2 separate regions of the Homo sapiens genome follow, and region 2 is linked to region 1. The links come from fine-mapping of genetic effects on gene expression. A gene starts in region 1. The other region holds a variant in brackets. All regions are shown on one strand. Distances are between the middles of the regions. Region 1 holds the start of A1BG (alpha-1-B glycoprotein). Region 2 holds the start of ZSCAN22 (zinc finger and SCAN domain containing 22).

Region 1 (8,763 bases):
ACAGGCGAGAAGCCGTACACGTGCCCCGAGTGCGGCAAGGCCTTCGCCTGGAGCTCCAACCTCAGCCAGCACCAGCGCATCCACAGCGGCGAGAAGCCCTACGCTTGCAGGGAGTGCGGCAAGGCCTTCCGCGCGCACTCGCAGCTCATCCACCACCAGGAGACACACAGCGGCCTGAAGCCCTTCCGCTGCCCGGACTGCGGCAAGTCCTTCGGCCGAAGCACCACGCTGGTGCAGCACCGACGCACGCACACGGGCGAGAAGCCCTACGAGTGCCCGGAGTGCGGCAAGGCCTTCAGCTGGAACTCCAATTTCCTGGAGCACCGGCGCGTGCACACGGGCGCGCGGCCGCACGCCTGCCGGGACTGTGGCAAGGCCTTCAGCCAGAGCTCCAACCTGGCCGAGCACCTGAAGATCCACGCGGGCGCACGGCCACACGCCTGTCCCGACTGCGGCAAGGCCTTCGTGCGTGTGGCGGGGCTGCGGCAGCACCGGCGCACGCACAGCAGCGAGAAGCCCTTCCCCTGCGCCGAGTGCGGAAAGGCTTTCCGCGAGAGCTCGCAGCTCCTGCAGCACCAGCGCACGCACACTGGTGAGCGGCCCTTCGAGTGCGCCGAGTGCGGCCAGGCTTTCGTCATGGGCTCCTACCTGGCGGAGCACCGGCGCGTGCACACGGGCGAGAAGCCTCATGCGTGCGCCCAGTGCGGCAAGGCCTTCAGCCAGCGCTCCAACCTACTGAGCCACCGGCGCACGCACTCGGGCGCCAAGCCCTTCGCCTGCGCCGACTGCGGCAAGGCCTTCCGCGGCAGTTCCGGCCTGGCGCACCACCGGCTTTCGCACACGGGAGAGCGACCCTTCGCCTGCGCAGAATGCGGCAAGGCCTTCCGCGGCAGCTCCGAGCTGCGCCAGCACCAGCGCCTGCACTCTGGCGAGAGGCCGTTCGTCTGCGCCCACTGCAGCAAGGCCTTCGTGCGCAAGTCGGAGCTCTTAAGCCACCGGCGCACGCACACGGGCGAGAGGCCCTACGCTTGCGGCGAGTGCGGGAAGCCTTTCAGCCACCGTTGCAACCTCAACGAGCACCAGAAGCGGCACGGGGGCCGCGCTGCGCCCTGACCCGAGGACGCCCTGAGCGGGAGGTCGCGGACACACGGCATTGCGGGGTCTCGGGCGTGAGTGCGCTGTCTGCTGGCCCAGACTTTTTCGGGCCGCCGGTGCGGGCGCCCTCCTGCTGGGAGTGCAGGGGCGGCCTTGGGTGTGGAGAACCCTGGCTGCACAGTCCCTTTGACGATAGTCCACCGGCCACCCAGGCCTGTCTGGGGACATGTAGGATGGGCTCTTACCCCAGGGAGGGCGGCAGGCTCCACTTCGGCGAGAGGTTCGTCCATGCAGAGGTGGGCAAGAACTGGGGTCTCCGACAGGTGTGGCTATTTCTTTGAGTTCTCTGGCACTGTCAAAAGCAGCCAACCCACCCCCCAGTCCACATGGTCACCACTGCTGCTACCAGCTGCTCAGTGCAGTGGCCACTGTGTCTCCTAAGGTGCTCGCTTCAGTCAGCACTTCATCTCAGGCAACCACAGGTGACAGTTAAACATGATGAAACCGCATGCTATGGCTTTCTAGTGTCTCATATTCTGTTGGCAAGAAGCTCAGCACTGCATTCCTGACCGAGGTCAGAACCAGATCAATCTCAGAATCTCACCTGTGTAGGTCTGTTTCATGGGACTTTTCTTTTTTGGGGGAGGGGGCAGGGTTTCACTCTGTCACCCAGGCTGGAGTGCAGTGGTGCAATCACTGTTTATTGCAGCCGCGACTTCTTAGGCTCAGGTGATCCTCCCACCTCAGCCTCCCAAGCAGCTGGGATGACAGACTTGCGTCACTACACCTGGCTAATTTTAAAATTTTTTGTAAGGACAGTGTCTCACCATGTTGCCTAGGCGGGTCTCAAAACTCCTGGGCTCAAGTGATCCTCCTGCCTCAGCCTCCCAAAGCGTTGGGATTATAGGCGTGAGCCACCGCACCTGGCCAGGGAACCTTCTTTATACCAAGTACCACACCAGTCAGAGTCAAGTCAGGAAATAGAAACCACACTAGGTATTTCAAACAGAGGGGATATAAGTTAGGGACTGATTGTGCAGGTTTTGCAAGGCTCAGAGAGCAAAAGTGGATGTTGCAGAATCTCAGAGCTGGATACTTGCAGGAAGCTGCTACCACCCTTAGGGCTGGAGAACCCAGGGAAGCTAAGAGGAGGGTGCAACGAGGCTGGTGTTGGGACTGCCAAAGGAAACACAGAATGACAGCTCCATCTCTGCAGACCTCAGATTTGACCAGGCCTCTGGCTGCCTGGGCAGCCTCATTGCCAATGGGCTGAAAGGTTCTGTCACTGTTCAGTGGTCTGACTTCTGAGTTCTGTGCACACCCTGAGCTCTGCTCCTCTGGCCTGGCCACCAGTCCTTGTCTGAGTGCCCCAGGTCTGGTTATGACTTCAGGCCTCAGCACCTGGTTGTCTCTTCTGCAAAGAATGCATTCTCCCCCAGTCCACCCAGAACACACAGCCTCCATCCAGGTACTGGCTCTGAGCAGGACAGAGAGCATGCAGCAGGTGCTCAGCAATATGGAAATGGGACCAAACAGAGGGAGTCTCCACAGCTCCCCGTCCCTCACAGCAGAAGCCAGAGCCGCTGCAGTGCCCAGCTGGTCTTCATCACGTCTATGAGCTCTGCAATCGCTCTGCAGTCGCCTCAACTCCTGGTCTCCTCTGCTCCTTCTCACTGCACCCGCATCTCCCATGTTTGCACTGGCTGTTCCCTCTGCCTGGAATGCTCCTTGCCCAGTTATCCCACTGTCTTCTTTGCATCTGGCACACAGTAGATGCTCAATAAATGCCTGTGGAATGAATGAGTGGGGAGGATGCAGTGCAGGGGGCAGATGAGGGCTAGGCGGTTGCCCTGGGCCCTCACACTCGTAGCGGAGCTAGGCTGGGACACCCAGGGTGGGGACCAGACCTCCCCGGGTGGGAATGACAGGATGTCCATGGAGGCTGAGTGTGAAAGCACCACGGTCTCACCCCTGTCCTGTTCCATCCCAACAGGCTGTGGTGAGGAGAGGGGGAGGCAGGGGAAGCGGGAGGCCTGGCCTCCAGGCAGCAGGCTATAGCCACATGAGTGACCACCAGCAGCTCAGGTAACTGAGCACATGTCACGGGTAGGCCTGGGAAGCGCAGGTCTCAGCTGAATGACCTGGGTGGAAATCCGACTCCAGAGCCGTGGTGGGTCACACCATGCAGAATGAACCAGTGATGGAGAAGGAACCACAGTCCTCAGGAAGAGTGAGGGTGCACCTCCAGACAGCCCATGTGAGGGCAACCGCAGAAAGTCTGAAAAGAGGTGAACCCCACCTTTGGTGTCACATGTGCAGTGTGGTGTGACAGGGAGGGGCTCGCTGGGCTTCAGCCCCGGCACTCTCCACTTGACCTCAGCAGCTCCAGGTAGAGTGGGGAGAACTCAGCGTCTCCTTCTAGAACAGGTTCTAGGATCCATCACTGAAATGAGGATGAGGTGGTTTTAACATCATTTTATCACTCTTGATTTAGTTTATTAATCATACATGATTATTGATTATAATTGTTGCTGGGCATCCTGAGGCCTCAGAAGTTCACCCTTTGCCCTGACCCCATGGGGGCCCTGCCCCCGCCTTCCGGGAAGGACAAACACGGGAAGAGGTCAGTGCCCGAGCCACCCCACCGCCCTCCCTTGGGGCCTCATTGCTGCAGACGCTCACCCCAGACACTCACTGCACCGGAGTGAGCGCGACCATCATGTCCATGCTCGTGGTCTTTCTCTTGCTGTGGGGTGAGGCCTCCTGGGGTCTGGGTCCCTGGGGCGGGAGGGGGCGGGAACAGGAGCCTTACGGGGGCTGTCTCCGCAGGTGTCACCTGGGGCCCAGTGACAGAAGCAGCCATATGTGAGTGCAGGGGTGAGGTCTGGGAATGGTGGGCCCAGGCCGGGGGGGAGCCCTGTCTCTGTGGCACTGAGCTGATCCCAGCCACCCCTTGCAGTTTATGAGACGCAGCCCAGCCTGTGGGCAGAGTCCGAATCACTGCTGAAACCCTTGGCCAATGTGACGCTGACGTGCCAGGCCCACCTGGAGACTCCAGACTTCCAGCTGTTCAAGAATGGGGTGGCCCAGGAGCCTGTGCACCTTGACTCACCTGCCATCAAGCACCAGTTCCTGCTGACGGGTGACACCCAGGGCCGCTACCGCTGCCGCTCGGGCTTGTCCACAGGATGGACCCAGCTGAGCAAGCTCCTGGAGCTGACAGGGCCAAGTGAGCCGGGGCATGAATTGGGGGCCAGGAGGCAGTGGGTAGGTTGTTGACTGGGGGGTCTCCCTTCCTCCAAGTCACCCGATGTCTCTGAGCCCCAAGCCCCAATCTTCCCATCTGTCAAATGGGGATGATGTCTGTGTTGTAAGGAATACATGGTTGTGTCCCCAGCAGGCCCGGCATGCCGTACAGCTCCCACACACTCTTTTTCTCTTGCCGTATGCCTTGTTTCCACTGGTGCCTGCCTGCCTTTTCCCAGCAATGCCCTCCATCCCTGTCTCCTTCACAGTCTTATGAGTGTGGGGCCCAGGTTCTGCTGGGCTTCCCACGTCTCCTGTTATGCAGAAGCACTCTTCAACTCCACCCCACCCACAGAGTCCTTGCCTGCTCCCTGGCTCTCGATGGCGCCAGTGTCCTGGATCACCCCCGGCCTGAAAACAACAGCAGTGTGCCGAGGTGTGCTGCGGGGTGTGACTTTTCTGCTGAGGCGGGAGGGCGACCATGAGTTTCTGGAGGTGCCTGAGGCCCAGGAGGATGTGGAGGCCACCTTTCCAGTCCATCAGCCTGGCAACTACAGCTGCAGCTACCGGACCGATGGGGAAGGCGCCCTCTCTGAGCCCAGCGCTACTGTGACCATTGAGGAGCTCGGTGACTGTGGGAACCATCTCTGGGGGCTGCTGGGGGAGGAGGATACAGGGGGCATGACCACATTCATCCTGACCTCCATGCTGAATGTCCTTGCCCAGGACCAGGTCCAGGAAGCTGGCCACACGGTTGCCTGGGTCTGATGGTTGCAAAGGAGTTTGGGCAGAGGATGCCCAAAGAATGGAAGGGTGAGGCCGGGTGCGGTGGCTCACGCCTATAATCCCAGCACTTTGGGAGGCTGAGGCCAGCGGATCATGAGGTCAAGAGATCGAGACCAGTCTACCCAACATGACGAAACCCCGTCTCTACTAAAAATACAAAAATTAGCCAGGTGTGGTGGCAGGTGCCTGTAGTACCAGCTACTCAGGAGGCTGAGGCAGGAGAATCCCTTGAACCTGGGAGGCAGAGCTTGCAGTGAGCTGAGTGGCGCCACTGCACTCCAGCCTGGGCAACAAGAGCGAAACTCCGTTTCAAAAAAAAAAAAAAAAAAGAATGGAAGGGTGTTCCTGGGATTGCCACCCGGAGGGCAGAGGTCTGGGGACTGGGCAGAGGGCAGCTCCAGGGATGGGGCAGCCTAGTAATGCTGCCTGCATTGCAGCTGCACCACCACCGCCTGTGCTGATGCACCATGGAGAGTCCTCCCAGGTCCTGCACCCTGGCAACAAGGTGACCCTCACCTGCGTGGCTCCCCTGAGTGGAGTGGACTTCCAGCTACGGCGCGGGGAGAAAGAGCTGCTGGTACCCAGGAGCAGCACCAGCCCAGATCGCATCTTCTTTCACCTGAACGCGGTGGCCCTGGGGGATGGAGGTCACTACACCTGCCGCTACCGGCTGCATGACAACCAAAACGGCTGGTCCGGGGACAGCGCGCCGGTCGAGCTGATTCTGAGCGATGGTGAGCCGGGGCCAGCAGGGACAGGGACGCGGCTGGGTCCCTGGGGAGCAGGAGCAGTACCAGGTGTAGAGTCTGGGGAAGTGCAGTGCTCTGGGCCAGGGTCCAATACCAACTTTATCCGCCCACCCGCCGATTCAGGGTCCTAAACTGCAAATATGATGATGAGCGTGACAACCTTCAGGCCCCACAGGGAATAACTGGGTGAACAGGTCTGGCCCAGGCCACAGGGGGCACCACCTGGCAGGTCCCATCCCAGCTGCCAGGTCTAGGTGAGCACTGAGGGCCTCTGCTGAGGCAGCTCCTCCGCTCGCTTGCCTTGGACCTGATGGTATTTAGCAAACTCTGAGCACCGGACAGCGAACCCCATGCCCAGCGGACCACAGGGGCCCCTCCGTGGGGCGGGCATTGGGGCGGTGCTCAGAAGACGCTCGTGGAGCAAATCCACTACTGAGCGGCATCGTGCACCAGGCATCAAGCCATGCACAAAACATGTCCCCGTCCCCGCTTCCCGTCTGTGTCTGTAGACAAACAAATTACTAAGAAACAGTGAAAGGGTGCGTGTGAGATATCCAAGGACTGGGATGCAAAGGTGGGGCGGGCCCGGAGGAGGCGAGGGAGGAAGCTGGCCAGGTCATTGCGGGCAGAAGACTCAGCCAAGGCAAAGAGCGCGAGGCCAGACCACGCGTTAGGGCCGAGCCAGCCGCTGGGCGCCCGGGTCAGCCCGTGTGCTGCTCCGCAGAGACGCTGCCCGCGCCGGAGTTCTCCCCGGAGCCGGAGTCCGGCAGGGCCTTGCGGCTGCGGTGCCTGGCGCCCCTGGAGGGCGCGCGCTTCGCCCTGGTGCGCGAGGACAGGGGCGGGCGCCGCGTGCACCGTTTCCAGAGCCCCGCTGGGACCGAGGCGCTCTTCGAGCTGCACAACATTTCCGTGGCTGACTCCGCCAACTACAGCTGCGTCTACGTGGACCTGAAGCCGCCTTTCGGGGGCTCCGCGCCCAGCGAGCGCTTGGAGCTGCACGTGGACGGTGAGCTGGCGGGGCACCAGCGAGGGCGGGCGCGGGTTCAGTGCCCCTCGGGGCCTCCTGTCTTTCCCCTCTTTCCTTGGGCGTCCGACGGCGGCGCTCTGGGCCTTGGTTCAGCCCCCATCGCCTACCCCGGCGGGGAGCAGGCGATCGGTGGTCGAGGGTCTGGGGACGCCTGGAATTTCGGCTTATTTCCCACGGACGCAAGCCCGTAGGTCACGTGTAGCGTGGTGGTCGGCAGCAGGGAGGCTGGCCCCAGGTTTTCTTGTTCAGATCCCTGCAGCTCTGTGGCTGCCTTGTTTTATTACTGGCCATGTCAGTCGTCATACTGGACCCCCCGCCCCGGCCCCGGTCCCGCAGGCGCACGGCTGATGTGTCCTTCTCCCCATCCCCGCCGTCCCCAGCTCTGTTTGTCCCTCTGATTTCCTCATCGACGTCTCCAGGACTCAGAGCCCAGCAGAGCGTGAGGGCACAGGTCTGACCTCCAGATCTTGAGGTCGTACCCTTTGCTGGGAGCACCGTTTTCTCTTTTCTTTCACTTTCTTTCTTTTCTTTCCTGCCTTCCTTCCTCTTTCTTTCTTTCTCTTTCCTTCTTTCTTTCTTCCTTCCTTCTTTCTCTCTTTTCTTTCTTCTTTTTTCTTCTTTCTCTCTCTCTCATCTCTGCCCCCCAACCCCATCTCTCTCCTTCATTCCTCCCTTTTCTTCTCCTTTTTGTTTTTTTTTTGGATAACTTACTTTTATTCTTGCAGGCCGGAGTGCAGTGGTGCAGTCTCAGCTCACTGCAACTTTCGCCTTCTGGGTTCAGGCAGTTCTCCTGCCTCAGCCTCCTGAGTAGCTGGTATTAGAGGCGCATGCCACCATGCCCACCTAATTTTCGTATTTTTAGTAGAGACCGGGTTTTGCTATGTTGGCTGGGCTGGTCTTGACCTCCTGACCTTGTGATCTGCCCGCCTCTGCCTCCCAAAGTGCTGGGATTACACTTGTGAGTCACCATGCCCAGCCTATTCTTGCAGTGTTATAAGCCACCATCCACAATTGATGAAAAATGTTTAATCTTGGCCAGGCAAGGTGGCTCACGCCTGTAATCACAGCACTTTGGGAGGCCAAGGCGGGTGGATCACAAAATCAGGAGTTCAAGAGCAGCCTGGCCAACATGGAGAAACCCTGTCTCTACTAAAAATACAAAATTAGCCAGCTGTGGTGGCACATGCCTGTAATCCCAGCCACTTGGGAGGCTGAGGCAGGAGAATTGCTTTAACCCGGGAGGTGGAGTTTGCAGTGAGTCCAGGTCATGCCACTGCATTCCAGCCTGGGCAACAAGAGCAAAACTCCATCTCAAAAAAAAAAAAAATGTTTAATCTTTAAATTGTACATCTATATCCTATGACTCCAAATTTTATTTATCACTCTCCTTAAAGTCTGAAGAAAATGATTAATTTACTAAGCTCCAAAGACAACACAGTCCCACTGACATAACATTTAGTATGATGTCCTACTCTCCTGTTAGAATTAAGAACAGCCAGTATCAAACTGGCCTGAAATCTGATTGGGTTCCTGGGCTCAGAATAACTGTAGTAAATTTGTAAATCCACACTAAGACACAAAATTAAACTAGGATGTGTATATCTATCTTACAAGAAAACGTTTCACAGTAAAAATTAACATTATGATTTTACCAAATTTCAACATTATAGTTTGTTAATCCAATCAAGCTTTCAAAATTCCTGATTAGCTTACAATTAATTGCAAATAACTTCATGTAGTTTGGCTAGCATTTCAAAATGGATAGGGAATATAACTTTTAAAATGCGAAAGTATATTATACATATTGCACTTTTCTGCTAGGCTGGGCTAGTATCTTCCATGGCAAGATACTCAAACTAT
Region 2 (8,098 bases), 22 kb after region 1:
GTGGTCCCAGCTACTCAGGAGGCTGAGGCAGGAGAATGGCGTGAACCCGGGAGGCGGAGCTTGCAGTGAGCCGAGACTACGCCACTGCACTCCAGCCTGCGCAACAGAACAAGACTCTGTCTCAAAACAAAAACAAACAAACAAAAAACTTACAACAAACTCAGGAGGTGGGACTTTCTACCTATTTTATGGATGGAAAAACAGACACTCAGGAGGAAAATATTTGCCCAAAGTCCCTCAGCTAGTGAAGGGTTAACAGAGAGCTAAGCTACAAACCCACGCAAACCTACAGCCAGCCTGTTTAAGGCGTGCTCCTCCCCAACAGAGCCAAGTCTTTCTCCCTCTGTTCCCCAGGTAGCCACATGGTCATTCTCTCACTTTACTTGCTAATTATTTTGTAGTGTTTGAGATTGATACATAATTGACTTTCGCCTTTCCTCTTTTCTAATGCACATATTTAAGGCTATAAATTTCTCTCTAAACACAGCTTTAGCTATACATCACAAGTTTGATATGTTGTATCTTCATTATCATTTAGTTAAAAATATTTTCTAATTTCTGTTACAATTTCTACCTTACTCATTAATTATTTTTTAAAATTTATTTTATTTTTTTGAGACGGAGTCTCCCTCTGTCGCCCAGGCTGGAGGGCAGTGACGCTATCTCGGCTCACTGCAACTCCGCCTCCCGGGTTCAAGCAATCCTCCTGCCTCAGCCTCCCAAGTAGCTGGAACTACAGGTGTGCACCACCATGTGAGGCTAATTTTTGTATTTTTAGTGGAGACGGGGTTTTGCCATGTTGGCGGGGCTGGTCTCGAACTCCTGACCTCAAGCGATCTGCCTGCCTCGGCCCCACAGAGTGCTGGGATTACAAGCATGAGTCACCATGCCCAGTCCCATTGGTTATTTATTTAAAACTCTCCTGCTTCATTGCCAAACAACTGGGGGTTTTCTAGTTGTCTTTTTATTACTGATGTCTAGATTAAGTCTGTTGTGGTCAGAAAACATGCTACAATGGATTTCGATCATTTAAAATTTGCTGAAACTTGGTTTGTGACCCAGTGTATGGTTAATTTTGGTTAATGTTCCATGAATACTTGAAAATAATGCAAAGCTGTCTTAGCTATGACACCAAAAGCATAAGTAACAAAAGAAAAAATAAATAAACTGGACTTTATCAAAATTAAAAGCTTTTGTGATTTGAAGGACCACATCAAGAAAGTAAAAAAGCAGCCCACAGAGTGGGAGAAAATATTTGCAAATCATATATTTGATAAGGGACCTGTATCTAGAACAACTCCATAGTAAAAAGATGAATAATACAATTTTAAAATGAGCAAAGAATGTGACTAGACATTTCTCCAAGGAAGATACACAAATGGGCAATAAATACATGAAAAGATGCTTAACATCACTAGCTACCAGGGAACTGCAAATGAAAACCACAATGAGATAGCACTTCACACCTGCTGGGATGCCTATAATCAGATAACATGTGTAGGCAAGGATATGGAGAAACTGTAATCCTCATATGCTGCTGCTGGGAATGTAAGATGGGATAGCCACTGTGGGAAGTACAGTCTGGGAGTTCCTCAAAAGCTTAAACAGAGTTACCCCATGACCTAGCAATTCTACTCCTACGTATAGACCCAAGAGAAATGAGTATATGTCCTCACAAAACTTTATACATAAATGTGCATAACAGCATTACTCATAACAGCAAAAAAGGAGAAACAATCCAAATGTCCACCTGATGAATGGATAAAATGCTGTATATACCTATAATGGAACACTATTCACCATAAACAGAAATGAAGTACTGATTAATGCTACAACATGGATGAACCTTGAAAACATGATGCTAAGTAAAAGAAGAAAGACACGGCAGGGCACGGTGGCTCACACCTGTGATCCCAGCACTTTGGGAGGCCGAGGTGGGTAGATCACCTGAGGTCAGGAGTTCAAGACCAGCCTGGCCAACACAGTGAAACCCCGTCTCTACTAAAAAATACAAAAATTAGCTGGGTGTGGTGGCAGGCACCTGTAATCCCAACTACTCAGGAGGCTGAGGCAGGAGAATCTCTTGAACTTGGGAGGCAGAGGTTGCAGTGAGCCGAGAGTACACCACTGCACTACAGCCTTGGCGACAGAGGTAGACTCCATCTCAAAAAAAAAAAAAAAAAAAAAAAGCATATTAGTGTTTGTCAGAGGCTGAAGAGAGACAAAAATGAGAGTGGTTGCTAATAGGTTTGGGAATTTCTTTTGGGGATGATAAAAATGTTCTGGAGGCCAGGCGCGGTGGCTCACGCCTGTAATCCCAGCACTCTGGGAGACCGAGGCGAGTAGATCACGAGGTCAGGAGTTCAAGACCAGCCTGACCAATATGGAGAAACCCCATCTATACTAAAAATACAAAATCAGCCGGGCGTGGTGGTGCATGCCTGTAATCCCAGCTACTTGGGAGGCTGAGGCAGAAGAAACCCTTTAACCTGGAAGGTGGAGGCTGCAGTAAGCCGAGATTCTGCCATTGCACTCCAGCCTGGGCAACAAGAGTGAAACTCCATCTCAAAAAATAAAATAAAATAAAAATACAGCTTTTAAAAAAATAATGTTGGCCAGGCACGGTGGCTCATGCCTGTAATCCCAACACTTTGGGAGGCCAAGCTGGGCCGATCACAAGGTCAAGAGATCGAGACCATCCTGGCCAACATGATTAAACCCCGTCTCTATTAAAAATACAAAAAAATTAGCTGGGCGTGGTGGCGTGTGCCTGTAGTCCCAGCTACTTAGGAGGCTGAGGCAGGAGAATCTCTTGAACCCGGGAGGTGGAGATTGCAGTGAGCCGAGATCACGCCACTGCACTCCAGCCTGGCAACAGAGACTCCATCTCAAAATAATAATAATAATAATAATAATAATAATAATAATAATAATAATAACGTCAGCTGGACGCGGTGGCTCACACCTGTAATCCCAGCACTTTGGGAGGCTGAGGCAGGTGGATCACAAGGTCAGGAATTCAAGACCAGCCTGGCCAGCATGGCGAAACCCCATCTCTACTAAAAATATGAAAACTAGACAGGCGTGGCAGCGGGGGCCTGTAATCCCAGCTACTTGGGAGGCTGAGACAGGAGAATTGCTTGAACCCGGGAGGTGGAGGTTGCAGTGAGCAGAGATTGTGCCACTGCACTCCAGCCTGGCCGACAGAGTGAGATTCTGTCTCAAAAAAAAAAAAAAAAAAAGTGCATTTGATAATTGTTGGGTGTTCTCTCCCTTATTTAAGTCAGGCCTCTACACAAAAGACGCCTTATCAGTAAGTCTCTGTGCTTCTACACTGCTTTATTTGCTCTTTACCACCTGATGTGTGATACACGTATGTGGTTACTTGTTTATTATTTACTTGTCCCTGTTGGAGTATCAGCACATTAAGGGCAGGGGTTTTTGTTTAGGTCTTTGCTTTATCCCCAGTGTCTACAGCATTGCTGGGCACATACATCAATAATAATACTTTTGTTCAGCACAGCCCCATTAGGTGCCTACTCTGTGCCCAGCACTGTACTAGGAATGCAAATACGGGGAAGGCATGGGTGCTGGGCTCAATGGCCTCAACGGAAGGACAGCGACCAACACATGATAAGATAATTATGATGATGGATATGGGTATAGTGTGCAACAGGAATAAAAGAAAATGGGAACAGACAGTCAGTGGGAACCTACCGGCTACCAGGCCACACTAGCCTTTGGCATCTGTTATCCCATTCAAGCCTTAGCTCCACCCTGTGAGTCAGTATTACCACTCCCATTTTCCAAGTTGGGGAAAGTCAGCTGCTAGAGTCATCTGGTCAGTAGGAACAAAGCTAGTGTTTGAGCTCAGGCTATCTGCGATCTTTCCTCCACACTCAAAGCCTTTCCAAATTCTAGAACTGTGAGCACTGAATGCTGGTCAGGGACAGCAAAAAACTACTTTCATGTACTATTGGTGAGGGCAATCAATTAGAATATCTTTGGCAAACAATTTGGCAGTATGTTGTAAGAGCTTTAAAATGACTGTGCTCTCTGCCTCAATATTAATTCTACTTCTCAGAATCTAGCCCCATTTCTAGATGGGGGTGCTACCGACATTCAGAGGGAGATAATACTTTCTTTTTGAAAAAATTCTTTTTTTCTCCAGACGGAGTCTTGCTTTGTCGCCCAGGCTGGAGTGCAGTGGCGCAATCTTGGCTCACTGCAAGCTCTGCCTCCTGGGTTCACGCCATTCTCCTGCCTCAGCCTCCC[G/A]AGTAGCTGGGACTACAGGCACCCACCACCACACCCAGCTATTTTTTTTTGTACTTTTAGTAGAGACGGGGTTTCACCGTATTAGCCACGATGGTCTCGATCTCCTGACCTCATGTTCCGCCCACCTCAGCCTCCCAAATTGCTGGGATTACAGGCATGAGCCACTGCGCCTGGCCGCATGTAGGCAATGCTTAACTTTTTAAGAAACTGCCAGGCTGTTTTGCAAATTGGCTATACCATTTTGCATTCCCACCAGTTGTGGATGAGGGTTCCAATTTCTCTACATCCTTACCAAGGTATTTTATACTATGGTAGTTCCCCCTTATCTGCAGGGGATGTGTTCCAAGACCCTCCAGTGGATGCCTGAAACCATGGATATTACTGAACCTTATATATTCTATATTTTTTTCTTATTATATACCCTTGATAAAGTTCATAAGTTAGGCATAGTAAGAAATTAACAACAATGACTAATAAAATAGAACAATTATAACAATACACTGTAATAAAAGCTATATTAATGTGGTCTTTCTCTCTCTCTCAAAATATTTTATTGTACTATATTCACCAAAACTGAAGATGAGGGGTGACTACTGTATTACTTTTCTTGACATTCTCTACTTCCCACAGTGAATTTGTTTTCTCTTATAGTCAGGAAGAATACCCTAAATTAAGTGTAACCTCTCCTAGGAGACCTCGACACTTTGCTTTGGCCACATACTACTCCTTACTCAAAGACTTAGCCTCTCCCTCTCCCATCCACGACTCCCACAGTTTTAAGTATTTGGAGTTCTTTTTCCTTTCCTTCAATGTCAGCCAGGACGCTCAGTGTGCCTGGAGTCTCTGCTCAAGGAAGTCACCCTGGACAGAGATGCAGGAGGCCTGAGAAAGAGCAATGGCCTTGGGCACAGGAAGAAGAGAACGTTACTCTAAAACAAGACCCCAATCCTGAAACCTTTTGGTGACCGCTGGTGACCTCTGGTGGCCTCTGGCCAAGCTGCGTTTAAGCCCCTTCGCCGCACTGTAAAGTTCTCCTGGGTCTCTTGTGGCCTTTCTAAGCCCCTTGTCGCCCCTGCTGCTCTCGAGTTCTGAAATCCGTCTCTGACGGATTCCTCTGGGCTCTCTAGGCCTCATCTTAGCTGCCACTTTCCTCAGGTGTCATCCCAGATACCTGGTACTAGTCTAAGTCCTCTTCCCAGAGTGCCCTGGGTAACTCTTTGCTAGTTCTGTACTGTTTCCTCAGAGAGGCTGGGCTGTCCTGGAGCCACAGCACACAGGACTTGCCCTATAGCAGGTTCACAATAAGCAGGCATTAAGCAAATGGAATGACCAGTAAAGGCTGAGCATGGTTACCCAAGAATGTAGGGAATCATGAGGGGAAGGAGGAGCAAGGGTGGCAGGGATGACAATAGATGCTGCAACAGCTTCCAAGTTCTCTTTTGCACCCCTGGAACACCTGTTCTGGAGAAATCCCTCATGACGGTCTCTGAAATACATGTATGTGAAACTTCCTCAGCCTCCTCAGCCAACCTCAACTCCTATCAGGTTGAGGTTCCCCATCCACAGCTGCTTTACCAACCAAGGAGGGTGGTTCTTTTCATTTCTCACACATGGATTATACCAAGCCTGATAATGGTACCTACCTCAGAGGGTTGCTATGAGATTATGTGAGGTGATTTATTATAAGTGTCCAGCACAGGCCTGGTGCACAGTAAACATGCAGTAGATGTATGGATACCATAGCCCCCTGCTACACGTAAGCAAACACTGGGGGACATATCCATAAGCCCAGCTGAATGACCACTAGTCACTCAGTTTCAGCTGCAGACATGGCAAAGCACAAATCCTCTCTCATATGCTTGGTAAACTGTTTGTGGATCACCCAAGTTTTAGTCTCCCTGATAAAAATCTCAGTCAATCAGATATTAACACATATTATCTCAGGTACAGTCTGTCAGCCACAGCCTTCAAAATACCCAGACACAGGAAATATCTCAATGTCACCTATAATCAGTCAAATAAACACAGGCCTGGCCAGGCATGGTGGCTCATGCCTATAATCCCAGCACTTTGGGAGGCCTAGGCAGGTGGATCACCTGAGGTCAGGAGTTCCGGGCCAGCCTAACCAACATGGTGAAAGCCCGTCTCTACCAAAAATACAAAAATTAGCCAAGTGTGGTGGCCGGTGCCTGTAATCCCAGCTACTCGGGAGGCTGACGCAGGATAATCGCTTGAACCCGGGAGATGGAGGTTGCAGTGAGCCGAGATTGCGCCACTGCACTCCAGCCTGGGCAACAGAGCAAGACTCCGTCTCAAAAATAAACACAGGCCCTCGCAGCATTTCCATCACACAGTATTATTCTGATCACAGTCATTCATAATCTTAGTCACCATCTCAAGGACACACAAAGAAAATCAGTCACACTTGAAATCCCACCGTCACACGCTCACCCTCTCACAGTATCTCACAACCCACGTAGGAAGTCTCAAACGGCAACCATCTCTGTCAGTCACACACTCCATGGTTAGTGTTACACTCAACCTATCAGAATCACACACTCCAACCCGTCAGATACACACACCCAAGAGGTGTCAGACACAGAACCGCCTATCAGACACATAAACGGGTCCGCCCCACACCCTCCCAGGCCACTGGTCCTACATTTTATCTGTTATCTGTCCGCCCGCTCCACACTTCGTCCGCCCCACACCCGGTCAATCAGTCCATCCGACACACACTCCGTCAGTCCGACACATTCTCCGTCGGTCCGTCCGGCACTCAGTGTGTCATTCCGCACCACATTCGGTCCGTGAGTCTGTCCACACCGGGTCCGTCAGTCCGTGCACACACGGTCCGTCCACGCCTGGTCCGTCAGTCCGTCACATCCTCTGCGCGTGTGTCCGGCACTCGCAGTCCGTCTACTCACGTCCCCTAGTCAGCCTCTCACTCTCTACCCGCTGGGCGGTACCCCGCATCTCGCTCTGGCCGCCCCAGAGGTTCGCGGCTTCTGGACCTGCTGTGCCCCTCTCCAGCCTGGATCAGGACGGAGAACACCCCCGAAACCCACCTCACCAGCACAGCCGGCGGACCCTTCCGGAGGTGGCCGCAGAGACTAGCCAACTTGCGCGCCCGCCGACCCGGACCACAGCTCCCAGCACACCTCAAGGGCCCACGCCCGCCAGGACTACAATTCCCGGCGTCCTCCGGAAGCTCAAGTGTACCCAGGCGCGGTGCCTGCTGGGAATTGTAGTTGACGTTGGTCAGCACGGAGGCCACAGGATCCCAGCCCGGCCTTTGTGGGACTGAGGTGGCGCTGAGTGGGAGAGCAGCAGGCGATGCGCGAAAGGCGGGACTTGGAGGTGAGGGAAATGTGAAGGCTGAGGGTGAGAGTGCCTGTGTGAGGCTGAGGGTGCCTGTGTGAGGGTGAGGGTGAGGGCGGCTGTGTGAGGGCTGAGGGCTGAGGGTGCCTGTGTGAGAGCTGAGGGTGCCTGTGTGAGGCTGAGGGTGCCTGTGTGAGGCTGAGGGTGAGGGCGGCTGTGTGAGGGCTGAGGGTGCCTGTGTGAGAGCTGAGGGTGCCTGTGTGAGGCTGAGGGTGAGGGCGGCTGTGTGAGGCTGAGGGTGGCTTTGGGAGGGCTGAGGGTGTTTGTGTGAGGGGTGAGGGGTAAGGGTGAGGCAAGAAAATCGGGTCTGGAGGCAGGGAACCTAAGGACTTCCTAGAAGTAAATCAAATGGAAACTGCAGCTATGGTAGGAAATATCCTCTCCATTTATGCAGGGCGTACATGGAGTAAATCACTTTGTAACTTTACTTCGTCCTCTTCAT

Evidence for each region.
Region 2: its variant is fine-mapped to the expression of A1BG in whole blood (TOPMed, PIP above 0.99). The same link has a PIP of 0.9 or more in blood mononuclear cells.

Annotation. Positions count from the first base shown.
Region 1 is chr19:58,348,489-58,357,251 of GRCh38, reverse strand. It overlaps A1BG (alpha-1-B glycoprotein), which reads left to right and starts at 3,760. Exons shown (of 8, transcript NM_130786.4): 1 at 3,760-3,848; 2 at 3,925-3,960; 3 at 4,055-4,324; 4 at 4,697-4,969; 5 at 5,565-5,861; 6 at 6,601-6,882. The coding sequence starts at 3,815. ZNF497 (zinc finger protein 497) reads left to right here. Exons shown (of 3, transcript NM_198458.3): 3 at 1-2,895. The coding sequence ends at 1,113. It overlaps A1BG-AS1 (A1BG antisense RNA 1), which reads right to left and starts at 5,282. Exons shown (of 4, transcript NR_015380.2): 1 at 4,208-5,282; 2 at 3,778-3,873; 3 at 3,395-3,538; 4 at 2,069-2,883.
Region 2 is chr19:58,326,360-58,334,457 of GRCh38, reverse strand. ZSCAN22 (zinc finger and SCAN domain containing 22) reads right to left here and starts at 7,464. Exons shown (of 3, transcript NM_181846.3): 1 at 7,344-7,464. LOC105372480 (a long non-coding RNA gene) reads left to right here and starts at 7,210. Exons shown (of 3, transcript NR_144444.1): 1 at 7,210-7,635. RefSeq lists enhancers at 7,164-7,493, 6,837-7,579. The variant G/A (reference allele first, on the strand shown) is at 4,276.